2 separate regions of the Homo sapiens genome follow, and region 1 is linked to region 2. Evidence: fine-mapped expression QTL. A gene starts in region 2. The other region holds a variant in brackets. All regions are shown on one strand. Distances are between the middles of the regions. Region 1 overlaps GMPR (guanosine monophosphate reductase). Region 2 holds the start of GMPR (guanosine monophosphate reductase).

Region 1 (8,000 bases), 41 kb before region 2:
CTCATGAACCTGAAGGAGATATTGCGTAGACGGCGGGGACGGTGGAAAGAGGCTCAGAAAGGTTAAGCAACTCTCCTAAGGTCACACAGCTATAAAAATGGAAAAACAAGTTTAGAACCAGTGGTTATCTTAAGATGATAGCATTACTGCTAATACTTATTTTCCTTTTTATGTTTATTTGCATTTCTAACTTTTCCTAGGTTAAACACATTTTGCTGGGAAAATTTTCCAGACTCAAAAAAAAAGATTAATTATTTGAATGAATTTGTTTAGGTATTTCTAAATAATGGTGTGATAACAAAAAATTAACTGGTCCCACCTTAATCTTCACCTATGCAGGAAGTATCCTGAATTTTTCCTCCCTCTGCCTCTCTGAAGCCCATGTGGGCCACAACAGAAACACGACTGAAGCCCAGCCTCTTGGGTATCAGTACATGCTCAACAGACACCATGTTGTGGCTTCCTTTGAACTTCAATGGCACCAGTGTGCTAATTCAGCAAATAAAGGGTAAAATGGGACAGCTGGAAGGAAATTGGACCAAGTGGCAGGATCCAAAACACCTGGTGGGTTTCTAGCAGGTTCAGGGCTACTGGCAAGTGACAGAAACGTGCCCGTGCCCTGTTAGACAAAGGGAGTGTGGGGGCAATGGCTGCTCTGAACCTCAAGACACTCAGCTGCTTACAAGGACTGAGCTGAGGGCAAAGGTCCAAATTCTACTAAGTCCATTCATTTGCTTTTCCAGCTAAATGGAACTCCTAACCCCATCTAGGAGACCTCTCAGCATTGACGTAAAAGGAAACTCGGAGGCCGGGCACGGTGGCTTACGCCTGTAATCCCAGCACTTTGGGAGGCTGAGGCGGGCGGATCATGAGGTCAGGAGTTCGAGACCAGCCTGGCCAGCATGGTGAAACCCTGCCTCTACTAAAAATACAAAAAAAAAATGGGCTGAGCGTGGTGGCGCGTGCCTGTAATCCCAGCTACTCGGGAGGCTGAGGCAGGAGAATCGCTTGAACCCGGGAGGCATTCTAGCAGGGAGCTGAGATCATGCCACTGCACTCCAGCCTGGGCGATACAGCAAGACTCCATCTCAAAAAAATAAAAAATAAATAAAATAAAAAAGTAAAAACTAAAAAGAAAAAAAAGAACCTCAGAGAACACAAGCAAGATCAGAAGTGCTACCTTCCTATTGCACCAGTGCCCCAGGCTTGGGATGTCATTGTCCCTAACTGTTAAATTCAGAGAAGTTGCTGCCTTGGGCACCAGCAGATGAGACCTGGTTCAGGAACACTCACCCCGCCAGCGTATGCTGAGCCTCTACTCTATAAGCCAGTGGGTCTCACACTTGAGAGGACATCAGAACTACCTGGAGGGCTCGTGTTTAAACAGGTTCCTGGGCCTCACCTGCAGAGTTCTGATTCTGTAGGTCACGTCGATGGTGGGGCCCAAGAATTTGTAACAAGTTCTCAGTTGATACTGCTGCTGCTGGTCTGGGCACCACGCTTAAGAGAACTGCTGAGATACACTATAAATTAGGTGGTGCTGTGTAAAGAGATGCTAAGTTGATTTCCAATCAGATTCACCTCTGGGGCACACAGAGCCTCCACCCCACCCTGCCTACCACCAATCTTTGGCCAAACAGCCCTGTAAACTAAGCAAGTTTGAAGTTTCTAGAAAGACATAAGGATCTCAGAATATGTTCAGAGTAAAACTTTATTAATCAGAACTCCACTACTTTGGAAATAGTGGTCATTCAACACTTACGATATAGGGTCCAAGTTTTGACTTGATGGAGATGCTCAATGGTTAACATTATTAGGTAATGGAGACAGGACTAATTACATATGGGGATTTTGGGGACTAACCTCTGAAAGAGCCAGTTCACTAGGATGGGGTCCCGGAATGTTGATTTGTAAAAGCCTCTCTGGTGATCCTCACGCAGCCAGACTCAGACAAGGCTGCACTCAGGATTTGAGAACCACTGACATACTGCGGAATGGTACTACTGCCTGGCCGCTCCCGTGAGTTGAATAACCTCTTAGCAAATGTAGACCGACAGTTCTATGTCAGCCTTTTACACACTAGTTGCTCAATAAATGGATATTAATTTGTTCACTGGGGCAAAGGGTATTGAGTGGAGAGTCTTAGAACTCTGTCATTAACCAATAAACCTTTGACCATTTATTTCAGATACTATCACAGTAGATGCTTAATAGAGACTTGCTGGATGAATGGATGGGTGGGTGAAAAATTTGGATGAGGCATTAGAAGGGGCCCAGGCAATCTGCACTGGACAGCGAGTGAAAGACCTTGATCCTAGCTTCAGTTGTTACCTGAGCACCATTCCCAAGACTTTCATCATCTATGGGCTAAAAGCTGCCAGGTCTCCAACTATGAACACAATGCCTCATGTGCAATTTCCCTTCTGATGCCCCTCAAGCACCTCAGAATCAACAGACACGTGCCATAGTGATCACCACACCAGCCCCGAACCTCTTCCTTTGCAGCCATCTTCCAGGTGAGCCAGCACATGAGCCAGCCACAGCCTTGCTCCTCCTTCTCCTTCTCCAGTGCCCCCCAAGCACCTACTCCATTGCCGACACTTGTTTAATTCTGCCTCCCAAATGTCAGTCAATTCTGGAGATGGCTCTCAAGCCTGCTGCAGAGCACAGTCACCTCCCCCTCCTGAATTACTAACGCGTCCCAGCTGGGCTCTCTTTTTTATTTTGCCCCTTTCAATCTGACCCAAGGCAGTGAGTTGGGCACTCTCCTACTCAGACCTCTGCAATAGCTCCCTAGTGCTCTTGGAGAAGTCCCATCCTTAAAGGTGGATCCCACAGCTCTTGTCCATACTTGCCCTCAAGCTTATCTCCTGCTGCCCCTCACGCCTGCCCCTCTCAGGTCACTCGCCCCAGATGCAGTGACTGAGATTTGGTTCCCCAGTGCTTTTCTGTTCCCTTCTTTCTTCTCATCTGAAAACTTCCTTTTCAACCATCAGCTCTCTCTATTACACTCCAGGAAACCTTCCCTGACCCTGAATATGGGATACGTGGCCTGTTATGGGTTGAACTGGGTCCCCCCAAAAACTCGCATGTTGCCATCCTAACCCCTAGCATCTCAGAATGTGACCTTATTTGGAAACAGGAACAATGGACACGTCATCAGTTAAGATGCGGACATCCTGGAGGAGGGTGGCCCCTGATCTGAAAGGACTAGTATCCTCAGGAAAAGGGGATGTTTGCACACAGAGACACACACACAGAGGACGCCACAAGCTAAGGAACCAGCAGAAGGTCACAGAGAGGCCTGCAACAGATCCTTCCCTGGGGCCCTGAGAGGGAGCATGCCCCCCCCAACACCCTGATGTTGGGCTTCTCGTCTCCAGAATGGTGAGACACTGAAATTGAAGCCCCCAGTCTGTGGGGCTTTATTACAACTGTTCTAGCAAGCTGTGGCCTGGCCTACCCTGTGCTCTGAAAGCTGCCTGCACATCCCTCATCAGATGGACCACCCACCTGCTTGTATGGCTTCTGCCTACTGGGCCTGCCACCCTCACTGTGGAATCCGTGGGCAGCAGGGCCTCTGTTTCTGCTGAATGTCAGCGCTGTGACCGCAGTGCCCAGCTCCCTCCCATGCCCACAGGATGCCCAGCCAGTGAAAGAAGAGCAGCGAGGGAGCAGGGGCCTCCCAAGACACCCCAGCCTCAGCCCCGGGTGGAGACTCACAGAGATGATGTGGCCCTTCAGGCCATGGGCAGAGTCGGCACACTCAATGACGGCACTCAGCTGGGGGTACCCCACTCCCGTCTTGGTGCGGGTGGTGCACACAGAACCTGCACAGAGAAAGAAGTTGTCCCCAAATAGATGGTTATACATGAGAAGACTGTGACATGAAATGCGTCCCCCTTACCTTTGCAGCCCTGCTTTAGGGACCAGGGTGAACCTCTGTGGCAGAGGAGATGTGGGGAACAGGCTGCCCCATCTGCACGATGGAGGTCACTGTAAACCACACCACCTGGTCATGCACCCCCTCCGGTCCTCATCACTGTCACTGGCTGATGTCCCAGACATCGCCTTCCCCTCTACCATGCACCTGTCACTGCCACTCCTCCCTGTGGCACTGGCTCCCATGCAATAGCCAGGCACTGACCTTTCCACACTTAAACACCCACTCCTTTCCACCTTTCTACAAATCTACACTCTGCTTTAAAGGACCTCTCAGAATCCTCCCACTGGCTCGTAGCTTCTTTACCTTCAACCTTTGTCAAATGACTCACCTCTCTTAAGCCTCACTGCCCGGCCTGTAAAATCCAAAGAGAAACACAACCTCCTGGGGTTGT[G/A]GCAGAGAACAAATGGCACAGGGAGGGATACCGCTTGGCCCAGGGCCTGGCCTGCAGCACGACACCCTCCATACCCTCACCTGCTCTCACTCAGCTCTGTGCTCCACAGGGCCCAGCTGTTTGTCCATCTCCCTCCTGGCTGCCCCACCTCAAGTCCCTTGCAGCCTAGCCCGAGGTTCACTTCCAGGCCAGGGCTCACACCAGCACCCTCCTGCCTGCCTGTCCCACGGTCAGCCCCAGTCCTGGTTGTTCTCCCAGTTAGGTCCAGGCCAAGTCGCACTCTGACCTCTTTATCATACCTCCCCTTATTCAAGCTTCCCGGTGCCGCCACAGCACCCCACTTTACCCAGATCAGCAGAATCAAGCTCCACCTGCTCCCCTCCCTCCCCACTGCTTCTCCAATGGGGCAAGTTTCTTCCCACCTTAGGGACTCTGTACACAATGTTCTCTCTCTTGGACACTCCCCTCTGTACCAGCCCGCCTAGCCAAACCCTTCTCATCTTTCCAGCTTCTTCTTAAATGTCACTGCCCCAGGGGAGTTGTTCATCACAGTTTCAAAAAGAGGCATTTCAATCAGGATCTGTGTGAGAATGTTAAGGGTCTGTCTTCTGTACTGGGTGGTCGGCTCCGTGGACATTCGCTGTTGTTATCAGGTGCTGAGAACAGAGCCTCATATACAATAAGGCACTATAAATAGTCACTGAAAGAATGTGTGGACTCAAGAATGAATGAGTCACCCACATCCCTGTCTCCACTGCCACTCACTCAGCCCCTCCCGGAGGTCTTGTGGTGTGCACGAGAGGGCGCTCTGGGGACAGGGTAAAGGTGGAAGTGAACTCCTCCCTCCCACCAGACCCGGGGGTGGGATGCTTTGAGGCGCAGCCTAATCTCCGGCTCCTGGCCGGCACCACCTTGTAGGATGCTAATTTCTGCCAGGGGTCTTTAGGGACAAGATCAGACAGAGAAGTATGTCTGTGTCCCCAGGCCTGGATTTAGCAGAGAAACCAGGAGAGACAGGGCAAGCCCCTCTCCTGCATCAGCTGTGGGGCAGAGTCCACAGAAGTCCTGTAGCTCCCTGTGTCCTGCTATGTGTCACTCACAGTCCTGGAGCCAAGAAGTCTCATTCCCACGAAGGCGCCTTCCCCCCGCCCTGCAACCAGACGTTGTGCACGGCAGAATAAAAGGTTTAACCCCCGGTTCAGCCTCAGCTTTTCTCCTCCTCTCCCATTGAATTGCTAGATCCGGGGGTGGGGGCCTCAGCTGCAGTAGGCCTGGGGTTCTGATAGTAGTGAGGGCTCTATAAAGGGTAGACCAATTGCCTTTCTTGGAAACAGCCAAGGAAGAAGCTTCAAATAACACACAGGCGGTTCTGATTAACACCTAGGTGAAAGAAGAAGTTGGTGCATACTTTCTCTTGACTAGAGGGGCAGGGAATCCGTTTCTGATGCTTTTTCCCAGTTCCCAGGAGTTGCTCAATAATGAATGAAATCTATCAATCAATAGACATCCAATAATGCTATCATTTAGATATGTAATATGCAATGTTTTTACCATAAAGAATGTGTGAGACTTAAATATGGTCTCCAAACAATTTAAAGAAGTAGCTCCCATGCATTGGGCTCAGAGAAAGCCCCTTATTCTCTTTAGTCACATCTGTCCTACACAGACAGCCAGAGGGGTGGGGAGATACAGTGAGAGCAGAAGGACAATACAGCTTCTGGGGAAATAGAATGCAGACACAGAGATGTGCAAGAAGAAAACAAGTGTAGTAAATGTTCGAGACCACATCTAGAAAAGCTTTGAGAGGGCCGGGTGTGGTGGCTCACACCTGGAATCCCAGCACGTTGGGAGGCCAAGGCGGGTGGATCACCTGAGGCCAGGAGTTCGAGACCAGCCTGGCCAACATGGTGAAACCCCGTCTCCACTAAAAGTACAAAAAATTAGCTGGGCATGGTGGTGCATGCCTGTAATCCCAGTTACTCAGGAGGCTGAGGCAGAAGAATCACTTGAACCTCTGAGGCGAAGGTTGCAGTGAGCTGAGATCACACCACTGCACTCCAGCCTGGGCAACAGAGCAAGACTGTCTCAAAAAAAATAAAGCTTTGAGAGCCAAGAAGCTTCTCACACACCTTCACATCCTGTACAGCACCCGCCCAACACAATGGTAGCCAGTGAACATTCAATACATATTTCCTTTTTTTTTTCTTGAGACAGGGTCTTGCTCTATCACCAAGACTGGAGTGCAGTAGTGCGATCTCAGCTTACTGCAACCTTCACCTCCCAGGATCAGCTGATCGTTCCACCCTAGCCTCCCAAGTAGCTGAGACTACAGGTGCATACCACTGTGCCTGACTACTTTTTAATTTTTATCTCCTATTTTTAGTAGAGACAGAGTTTCACCATGTTGCCCAGGCTGGTCTCAAACTCCTGGGCTCAAGCGATCCACCCACCTTGGCCTCCCAAAGTGCTGGGAGACCAGGCGTGAGCCACCACATCAGGCCCATATTTCTGATTAAACAGGTGACTAGTGAGTGTCCCTGCCTTTGGGACTAAAAAGAGTCTTCCTAATCTATTAGCCTATTTTGTTCTATTATCAGTCTGTCTATTACAGCCTGCCCTAAGAGGAGGCAGCCTGGAAAGGAAGAACGAGGCCTTATCCTTTCTTGCCTTTTCAATAATGGTAGATACTCAGTAAAGACCTCTTCCCATTTGCTCAGAATACATTATTAACTGGCTTAAATGAGTGGCAATATGAAAAACTTAACCTTGAAAATCTCCCTGTATGTTAAAAGCTTGGGTATTTTTACGAATCTACAGGGTTCTTCTTCCTAATATTCTCTTCATACACATCCAATTCCCTCAGGCTGATCACGGAGCCAAGTCACAGCTCAACAGCGTCTCCTGCGCCTCCCAGCTGTGCGTTTTCCCACAGATTCCTCTCATATTGGTTTAGGTTTGCTTCCTTTTTTGGTAGTGTCATTTGGGTATGAGATTCTTTTGAAAAATCTTTGCTGTTTTTCAGTCCCAAGTGAAAATGTGTATATTCTTTCTTGCTCCTCAATTTTAGTGTCTGGTTAATACTGGATGTGCACGGATGAATTTAAAACATGGCAGCTCATCTTCAAGCAGGGCAAAGAAGGAAAGCGAACAGTAACCCTGCCCCATGAGAAAATGGCGCCACCCATGACAAGGACAGAAGGCTCTACCTCGTTCTTCTGCTTAAGATGCCAATGGGTGGTCCTAAGAAAGCATGCCTGGGAGAAGAACATGGGCAAAATCTACATCTAATACGTATCAGGTGAGTAACCAAAGGTGATCATTACCTAGGCCATGGGTCAAGTTTGAATGTGGCCTCATCACTGCAAGCTTATTTGCAATGTTTGGGGTCCCTCAAACATTCACATAAACTGGAGTCATTCATGTTTATTAACTGTCTCTATGGATTCTTCACCTATCGCCTTCCTCTGCAAGGTGTATGGGGTCATTAGTGAAATCTACATTCTTCCACATTGGTTCTGAAACCAAGCCCTCATATTCTGACCACATCCATATATTCTAACCATAATTTAGAAAATCCCTGGGGGCATCAAAAAGCAGCTCAACAATACTTTTCATCAGGGGCTTCCCCGAGAAGCTCAATTATGCTTCCAGAAAAAGCATGCT
Region 2 (8,894 bases):
GAATCGCTTGAACCCAGGAGGCGGAGGTTGCAGCGAGCCAAGATCACACCACTGCACTCCAGCCTGGGTGACAGAGTGAGACTCCGTCTCTAAATAAATAAATAAATAAGTACATTCTTACTAGCTTAAGGACTAGAGTAGAATGTTAGAGCCAGAAATGGGTACTAAGGAAGAAAACACTCAGGGAGAATGCAGGCTCCCCAGCGTAACAGATGAAAACAAAGGTCTTGTCTCAATCCACAAACTCATCACTTCTCAGAAAAAGATTATCCAAATGTCCCCACATGACCCTGTGGCGCTTTATTCTTCCATGCCAGGGGCTGGACATTTGAGAGATGAATGCCTCCCTGGAGAATCCAGGCGAAGGCCACCTGGGCCACTGCTACCTGTATTCTTTGCCTCTCAGAGGTGACCTCAGATTCATCTCATTCATGTTCATTTATGGAAGGCTGGTGGAAATGTCCTTGCAGGAGTCCTGAAGCTTCTGAGGGGGAGATCACTCTTACTGTCCGTTTCCTGCTATAGCCTGATGATCCATTGCTGGGCCTGGCTCTTAGCAAAACTGTCACGAGGATAAGCCCATCATCAGCTGTCAAAACCCTCCTCCCTCAGCCAGACTCTACTCCCAGGGTGTACGTTCTCTTTCCTGGCTCTGTACAAATCTGCTGTTAGGCTCAATGTCGGTCATCTACCCTTCAGTTTCCAATTTGCCTCCAGATATTACTTCTGCCAGGATGCACATATTTTAAGCTTCTGATTGTGCAAGGAAAAGTTTTTATCTGCCTGTGAAAAATTTCAGGCATCAACAAGCAAACTGAGAAAACATTGAGAGGGGATTAGGGAGGCCTAACTAGATCCCTCAACGCCACCGAGGCAAGTAAAGTCAGATCATGGGGGTGGCCAGCCAGGCAGCAGCCTCACGCATCAGGGAGCTAAACCATCACGGCAACCGATTAGAAAGGCAATGCTGGTTAACCTGAGTCTCCAGGCCCGTGGCTGGCAAACTCCCACGAACATAAAAATACAAAAGAGACTCCTCAAGGGCACTGAGTTCTCACTGCAATGTGTACATGAAGATTGCAAAGATGCTATCCCAAACTGGAACATTAGTTACAATCTGCCCAAATTATGAAGCCAAGTGTTGCATGACATTGTCGCATGATGTGATAGTATTCCCCGAGAAGGAGTAATTCATTCTATTACATAAATTTCATTTTAGCTTTAGAGACAGGGTTGTCCAGGCTGAAGTGCAGTGGCACCATCATAGCTCACTGTAACCTCCAGCTCCTGGGCTCAAGCCATCCTCCCGCCTCAGCCTTCCAAGTAGCTGGGACTACAGGTGAGCACCACTGCCCTAATTTTTTAAATTTTTGTTGTAATCTCCAGCTCGTGGGCTCAAGCCATCCTCCCGCCTCAGCCTTCCAAATAGCTGGGACTAGAGGTGTGCACAACTGCCCTGGCTGATTTTTTAAATTTTTGTAGAGCTGAGGTCTTGCTTTGTTGCCTAGGCTGGCCTCGAACTCCTGGCCTCAAGCAATCCTTCCACCTCAGGTTCCTAAAGTGCTGGGATTACAGGTGTGAGCTACTGTGCCTGGCCCTATTACATTAATGTTCAATATTTTACCTTCTCAACATGTTTTCTGGTTCAGAAAATAGGTATATCTTTGTTTTGAACATCCAATTTTCTGAAAAATGAGTTTCTCTCTTCTAAATACATTTTGAATATTTAAAGAATATTGAGGCCACCAAATTATTAGCACATCCAGAATCCCCCTATTTCATCTTGGTCTTGCCTTAGGAATTGGCTACAGCTCATGCTTCCAGAGGCCCAGGCCTGCCCTCCAAACTGTTTTTGTTCCAAGAGAGGCCCCCTCTTTAGCACCTGAAAGGTCATGAGGGACAGGCACAGGGTCACCCAATCTGGGGCGATAAGTTTTAATCATTCCTCCCCTACGTCCTCCAGTCCTGCCGGGCTCCAAACCAGCCAATGCTGCTGCTTACAGAAGGCCACTTGGTTTAGTCATTGGCTAACGCGGAGGCTTCCCCAATCCAAGCAAGCCCTCGGCTGGCAGCCCCAGGCACTGCAGTTAGGCCTGGCACCGGAGTGGGCAGCGGACTTCTTTGCTGAGGGGATTTATTTATGGTCTTGTTTGTGGAGCTGAGTGGACGGAGCTGTGCAGGTTGGCCCAGCCTCCTCGTGTTTACTCCTTCAGCCCCAGCCTTCAACCGTGTCCGGTTTCCTCACCTTCCTCTCCAGCTCTCAGCAAAGCCAGTCACCAGCGCACACCACCCCGGGGCACTCTGCCTTTCAGGCAACTAGTTTATCCTTCAGGGACTGGCCTCCCTTCCCCCAGCCTCAGGCTATTTCCAGTCCGGTCTCCACCTGTTCCTTAGGATTTGAGGACATCCAGGCAGAACCAGGGAAATGCCCGAGGCTTCCAATTCGCCCCCACCTCTCTCACCCCAAAGCTTTCGAAACTCTTCTCCAGGGCTAGGCTGGGACCGCGGGCTGTCCAGTACCGCTGAGTCCCCAAGCCCCACTGCCAGCAAGGCCGCCAAACTCAGAAAGGAAACCCTGAACTTGTGCCCTGGGTTCTGGTTTTTCAGACGCGTTCACGAAGTTCCACCGCTGGACCCGAAGCGAAAGCAGCAGCAATTATCAGCACTAGGAGACGCAGCCAAAAATCACCGGGATCTGCAGTTGTTTTTCTCGTCCTCTCTCCCCTAGCTCCAGTTTCCTTTTCTTGCTATAAGCGCCCTCGTACCCCTATTCCTTCTAAACCAACTGGCCACTGGATCTCGCTCATCTGTGGTCGAGTTTCACTGTGAACTTCCCCTAGGCCACCCAACGGGACCGACGTGTAGAGAATTTCATGGGCCCCCGTATCACCGCCCTTAAAGACACCTCACGTCCTGGCAGGTGCTGGGGCGCGGGAACGGGGGCGCAGCGCCCCAGTCTCAAACACCAAAGCAGGCAGGGTAACCCGGTGCCACCCCCTTCCACCCACTTGCCCCGCGCCACCCGGAAAAAAAAATCCCACCCCACTGCGACTTCCGAACGTCCCCCACCTCGGCTCGGCTCTTGAGGCTGCTCCGCTTAGGTCGGAGCAGGACATCCTTGAAGTCGAGCTTGAGGTCCGCATCTATGCGGGGCATGGTGCAGCGGCTCCTGGCTGCGGCGGCGGCGACGGCGGGGCGGGGGCGCCTGCGCGGGGCGGCGCGGGGAGCGCCGGGGCTGCTGTGCCGCGGCCGGGAGCTGGCGTGGGCCGGGTGCGCACGCCGCGGTCTTAAACACGCCCCGCCGACCCGCGGTCACGCTTGGCCCGCCCCGGGCACCGCCTCCGCCTCAGGCAGGGGTTGAGAGGCAGACTGGTTAGGGACAGATTGGCGGCGAAGCCCTTCCTCCTCGCGCCGCCGCCCCCGTCCTTCCCCCTCAGGTGTACAGCCCGTGGCAGTGACCGAATGGGGACGGGGGAGGGAAATGCGCACCGTTCTGTTTGTCCCCAGGGTCCCCGATGGAGAGGGGACTTAGCGTGTGGCTGCCTTATCCAAGGGAAAAGTCGCTCCCTGAGAGCTTTTACTTTTTTTTTTTTTTTTTTGAGACAGTCTCACTGTCGCTCAGGCTGGAGTGAGTGGCGCTATCGCCGCTCATCGCAGCCTCGACTTCCTGGGCTCAAACGATTCTCATGCCTCAGCCTCCTCGAGTACAGGCGCACGCCGCCACACCCAGCTTATTTTAAAAATTATTTCCTAGAGGCGGGGTTTCACCATATTGCCCAAGCTGGTCTCGAGCCCCTGACCTCAAGTGATCCGCCTGCCTCGGCCTCCCAAAGTGCTGGGATTACAGGCGTGAGCCACCGTGCCCGGCGGATTCTCCTTTTTTAAAATTCAAGCCCGGTGTGCTCACCCAGTGTTGAGGAGCACGTCTCTCACTTGCCAAAGAACCAGAAACCCCAGGGAGGTTGTATAGAATTAAGGAAAAGAACGTGGGCAGTTAACTGTTTAGCTGTACTGGGATTGTGGAGGCCATGATTCCCTTTGGACTTGTTGTTAAGAGACAAGGTCTCACTGTGTTGCCCAGGCTGGTCTTGAACTACTGGGTTCAAGCAATCCTCCCGCCTCAGCTTCCCAGTGTTGGGACTACTGGCGTGAGCCACTGCGCCCAGCCTGGATTTCAGGATTTTTGTTTAAGAAAAACAGTGAGGTCTGTAGTCGACGCAGATCCTGAGATTTGAGGAGCCTGAGTCCCCTCTGAGGGTTACCAGTGATGTGAGTTCGAGGGGTTACCAGTGATGTGAGTTCATTGATTCACTTATTGACCTTACCGACCTTTTATTATACATTTGAAATGTGCTGCCGGGCTTCATGCATCATCTCATTCACTCTCAGAACAACCCAATGAAGAAAGAGCCATTTCACAGATAAGGAAAAACGAGGCTTCTATAAATGAAATAACTTGCCTAAGGCCGCAGAAAAATTCAATATAAATTTCTCAGTCCTTAAAACTTGCTACAACTATTCACTGAAGCTGCTTTTGTCCTGGAACATCTCTGCCTGAGTTTGAAACCTGGTTCCACCACTGTCTAGCTAGGTGACCTTAGGGGAGTCAATTTCTCTAAGTCTCAGTTTTCTCATAAAAGGGGTGGGGGCAGGAGGGGGGGTTAACCCTATCTCCTCCCTGGTTTTTGTGAGAATTAAAGTGTGTGTGTTTATGTAAGCACAATGTCTGTCCCATAGTAGTTGCTCAATGCATGGTAGTTACAGATTTGTAGTCACATGTTACATTATGTGCATTGTGTTTGTATTTTCAAACTAGAATGCTAACTGCACAAAGGCAAGAATCATCTTTCATTCTCTTCCATTTTTCTGCAGCCTCGAACTGAGCTAGCAACTGTTCTCCTTGAGCTAGCATGTGATAAGGCTGACCATAAAAGATACATCACAATATTCAATTTAACACAAATGTCTGAAGATGATAAAGGTCTCAGCCCATCCCACATGGTTTCATTAGCTATACCCCAAAGGAAGTTCATGAAGTTTCAGGGAAGGAAATGAAACTTATCAGAGAGAATGAAAGTAGCCACAATTAGTCCAGCCCATGCAATGTTTATAACCCTTGACGAATTCTTGGGAGCTGGCCAGATGTGCTGCTTATTTGTGAAGTACGGAAAGGAAACCTAATTCTGATCTTTTAAAGATTAAATAGAGGTAAAATATAATTACTAGATGGTATGATTATTTTTAAATTATTATCCTTAAAGGGAAGAGAAACTGACCTTGTTAAGCATCTGCCAGCGTGGATGAGGGCTTTATTCATTGTTTCATACATGGTCTTAAAGGAGAAGCTTCTGTAGGTTGTCCTTGCTCTTTCCCTCTGGTTCTCTTTCTTTCTGGCTAGCCCTCCTTTTATTAGAATAGACAGAGAAGTTCATTTTACACATTCCATTCCCTCTCCCTCTGGAACATTCCTCTATAACTGCCCTCTTCTCTGACACAAAATCATACTCCTGTTAGAGTCAGCCTGAGTCCCTGATTCTTCTAAAACCGGCTTTGCAAAAATTATGACAGTGAGAAAAATCTGACATAGGAAAATGACAACAGTGAAAGAAATCTGACCTAACTGACTCCATCTTGCTTTTAACCGCCAAGGTGTCCTTGTTCATTCCTGGGTGTAGGTTGAACTAACTATGGGAGGAATTGAGTTTATAGTTTAACTTTGAAACAAAGATGAGAACAGCACGTTCCCAAAACAAACCCCCTCCTGGCTTGGGGACCAGCGCACCTTTGTAAAACTAACAAAGTAGCTACAGATTACAAATCATGGCTCAGGCATCATGTAGCCAGAGGCCATAAGATTCCCAACCTCCCCAGTTGCTCCTATGAATAACATCACTATTGAAAACCTAAGATTGGTGTTAGAGATATGTTTCAGTCAGTCCCCCCATTCTGATGGACCAGCTGGCACCACCCTGACCAGTAAACTGGCTCAGCTAGTTCTGTGATCCCACTCGGAAACGGAAGACAGCAAGGAAAACCCACTTCAACAGCCTATTATTTCATCCCTTACCTGACCAATCAGCATTCCCCACTCCCTAGTTCCTGCCCACCAAATTATCCTTAAAAAAGCCTGGTCTCTGAATTTTTGGGGAGACTGATTTGAGCAATAAAACTCCAGTCTCCTGTTAGCTGGCTCTGCATTTATTAAACTCTTTCTGTATTGCAGTAATGCTGTCTCAGTAAATTGGCTCTATCTATGCAGCAGGCAAGAAGAACACATAGGGCAGTTCCACTCCCACACCAACTGAGACTCCTTTCAACATCCTCTGCTTCTCATTACTCTAATACAACAATAATAGTTTCCCATCAGTACAATGACTTTATGTTAAAGTTTTCACTGTCTAGACAAAGCCATAAGTGATATCCAGAGTTCAATTTATTAACATTTTATTATGGGAGGGGAGGGTTATCCCCAAAATTACATGGGAAGATAACCTCCAAAATTATGTGGGATAAATTCCACTTGGTCACAGTGCATAATCCTTTTTTGTATTGATGGATCCTATTTGCTAATATTTTGTTAAGGATTTGTGCATCTGAGCTTATAAGGGACATTACTCTGTAGTTTTCTTTTCTTTTGATGCCTTTATCAGGGTAATAGTGGCCTCATAGAATTAGTTGGGAAATGTTCCACGCTCTGTTTTCTGAAAGAGCTTGTGTAGGCTTGGGATTAGTTCTTTAAATATTTAATAGAATTAACCAGTGAACTAAAATTATGTGAAGTGATAAAATGGTTTATTTTTAGTAAATAAGTATCTCTCAAAACCCAGAAATAAAGTTAAGTATTAAAGGCTTTTTGATAATTCAGAATTATAGTATTTAATATTAAGGGATAAGAGCAAATCTGGAGGCATCACACTACCTGATTTCAAACTATACTATAAGGCCATAGTCACCAAAACAGCATGGTGCTGGTACTGGTATAAAAATGGGCACATAGACCAGCGGAAAACAATAAAGAACCCAGAAATAAACCTACATACCTACAGCCAATTGATCTTCAACAAAGCAAACTAAAACATGAAGTGGAAAAAGGACACCCTTTTCAACAAATGGTGCTGGGATAATTGGCTAGTCACATGTAGGAGAATGAAACTGGATCCTCATCTCTCACCTTATACAAAAATCAACTCAACATGGATTAAGGGGCCGGGTGAGGTGGCTCATGCCTGTAATCCCAACACTTAGGGAGGCTGAGGCAGGCAGATCATCTGAGGTCAGGAGTTTGAGACTAGCCTGGCCAACATGGTGCAACCCTGTCCCCACTAAAAATACAAAAATTAGCTGGGCATGGTGACACCGGTCTGTAGTCCCAGGTACTCGGGAAGCTGAGGTGGGAGAATTGCTTGAACCCGGGAGATGGAGTTTGCAGTGAGCCGAGATTGGGCCACTGCACTCCAGCCTGGGCGACAGTGTGAGACTCCATCTCAAAAAAAGAAGAAGAAGGTGGATTAAGAACTTAAACCTAAGACCTGAAACTATAAAAATTATAGAAGATAACATTGGAAAAACCCTTCTAGACATTGGCAAGGATTTCGTGACCAAGAACCCAAAGCAAATGCAATAAAAAAAAAAGATAAATAGCTGGGACCTAATTAAACTAAAGAGCATGGCAAAGGGAACAGTGAGCAGAGTAAACCGACAACCCACAGAGTGGGAGAAAATTCACAATCTATACATCTGACAATGGACTAACATCCAGAATCTACAACAAACTCAAACAAATCAGTAAGAAAAAGACAATCCCATCAAAAAGTGGGCTAAGGGCATGAATAGACAATTCTCAAAAGAAGATATACAAATGGACAACGAACACACAAAAAAATGCTTAACATCACTAATGATGGGGGAAATGCAAATCAAAACCACAATGCGGTACCACCTTATTCCTGCAAGAATGGCCATACTCAAAAAATCAAAAAACATTAGGTGTTGGTGGCTGGGCACGGTGGCTTGCACCTGTAATCCCAGCACTTTGGAAGGCCAAGGCAGGTGGATCCAGACCATCCTGGCTAACACAGTGAAACCCCATCTCTACTAAAAATACAAAAATTAGCCGGGCGTGGTGGCACGTGCCTGTAGTCTCAGCTACTCGGGAGGCTGAGGCAGAAGAATTGCTTGAACCCGGAAGGCAGAGGTTACAGTGAGCAGAGATCACGTCACTGCACTTCAGCCTGGGTGACAGAGTCAGACTCCATCCTAAAAAGAAAAATGAAAAAAAAAAAAAAAACAATAGATGTTGGTGTGGATGCGGTGAACATGAAACACTTCTACACTGCTGGTGGGAATATAAACTAGTACAACCACTATGGAAAACAGTGTGGAGATTCCTTAAATAATTAAAAGCAGAACTACTATTTGATCCAGCAATCCCACTACTAGATATCTACCCAGAGGAAAATAAATTATTCGAAAAAGATATTTGCACACACGTTTATAGCAGCACAATTCACAATTGCAAAAAGTGGGCTAAGGGCATGAATAGACAACCTACACTACAACCTCCACCTCTCGGGCTCAAATGATTTTCCTGCCTCAGCCTCTGGAGTAGCTGGAACTACAGGTGTGCTCCACCATGCCCGGCTAATTTTTGTATTTTTAGTAGAGACGGGGTTTCACCATGTTGGCCAGGATGGTCTTGATCTCTTGACCTCGTGATCCGCCTGCCTCGGCCTCCCAAAGTGCTGGGATTACAGGTGTGAGCCTCCGCACCTGGCCAGCCAGCTTACTTTTAAAAACTGGGAGGCCTAGCAGGGTGTTCATCCCCTCAGAGGTCTGCCATCTGCTAGAGTGAATCAATGTTGTCTCTTTAGATGGGGTGGATGGGTGATCTCTAA

What was found. PIP is the estimated chance that this variant, and not a neighbour inherited with it, causes the effect.
Region 1: its variant is the best candidate, but not a certain one, in a credible set for the expression of GMPR in whole blood (TOPMed, PIP 0.78).

Annotation. Positions count from the first base shown.
Region 1 is chr6:16,274,614-16,282,613 of GRCh38, reverse strand. It overlaps GMPR (guanosine monophosphate reductase), which reads right to left. Exons shown (of 9, transcript NM_006877.4): 6 at 3,724-3,830. Among named protein-coding and RNA genes, the nearest start is that of GMPR, 40 kb to the right of the region's middle. RefSeq lists an enhancer at 5,002-5,296. The variant G/A (reference allele first, on the strand shown) is at 4,338.
Region 2 is chr6:16,232,956-16,241,849 of GRCh38, reverse strand. GMPR (guanosine monophosphate reductase) reads right to left here and starts at 3,263. Exons shown (of 9, transcript NM_006877.4): 1 at 3,070-3,263. The coding sequence starts at 3,156. RefSeq lists silencers at 3,161-3,260, 3,381-3,480.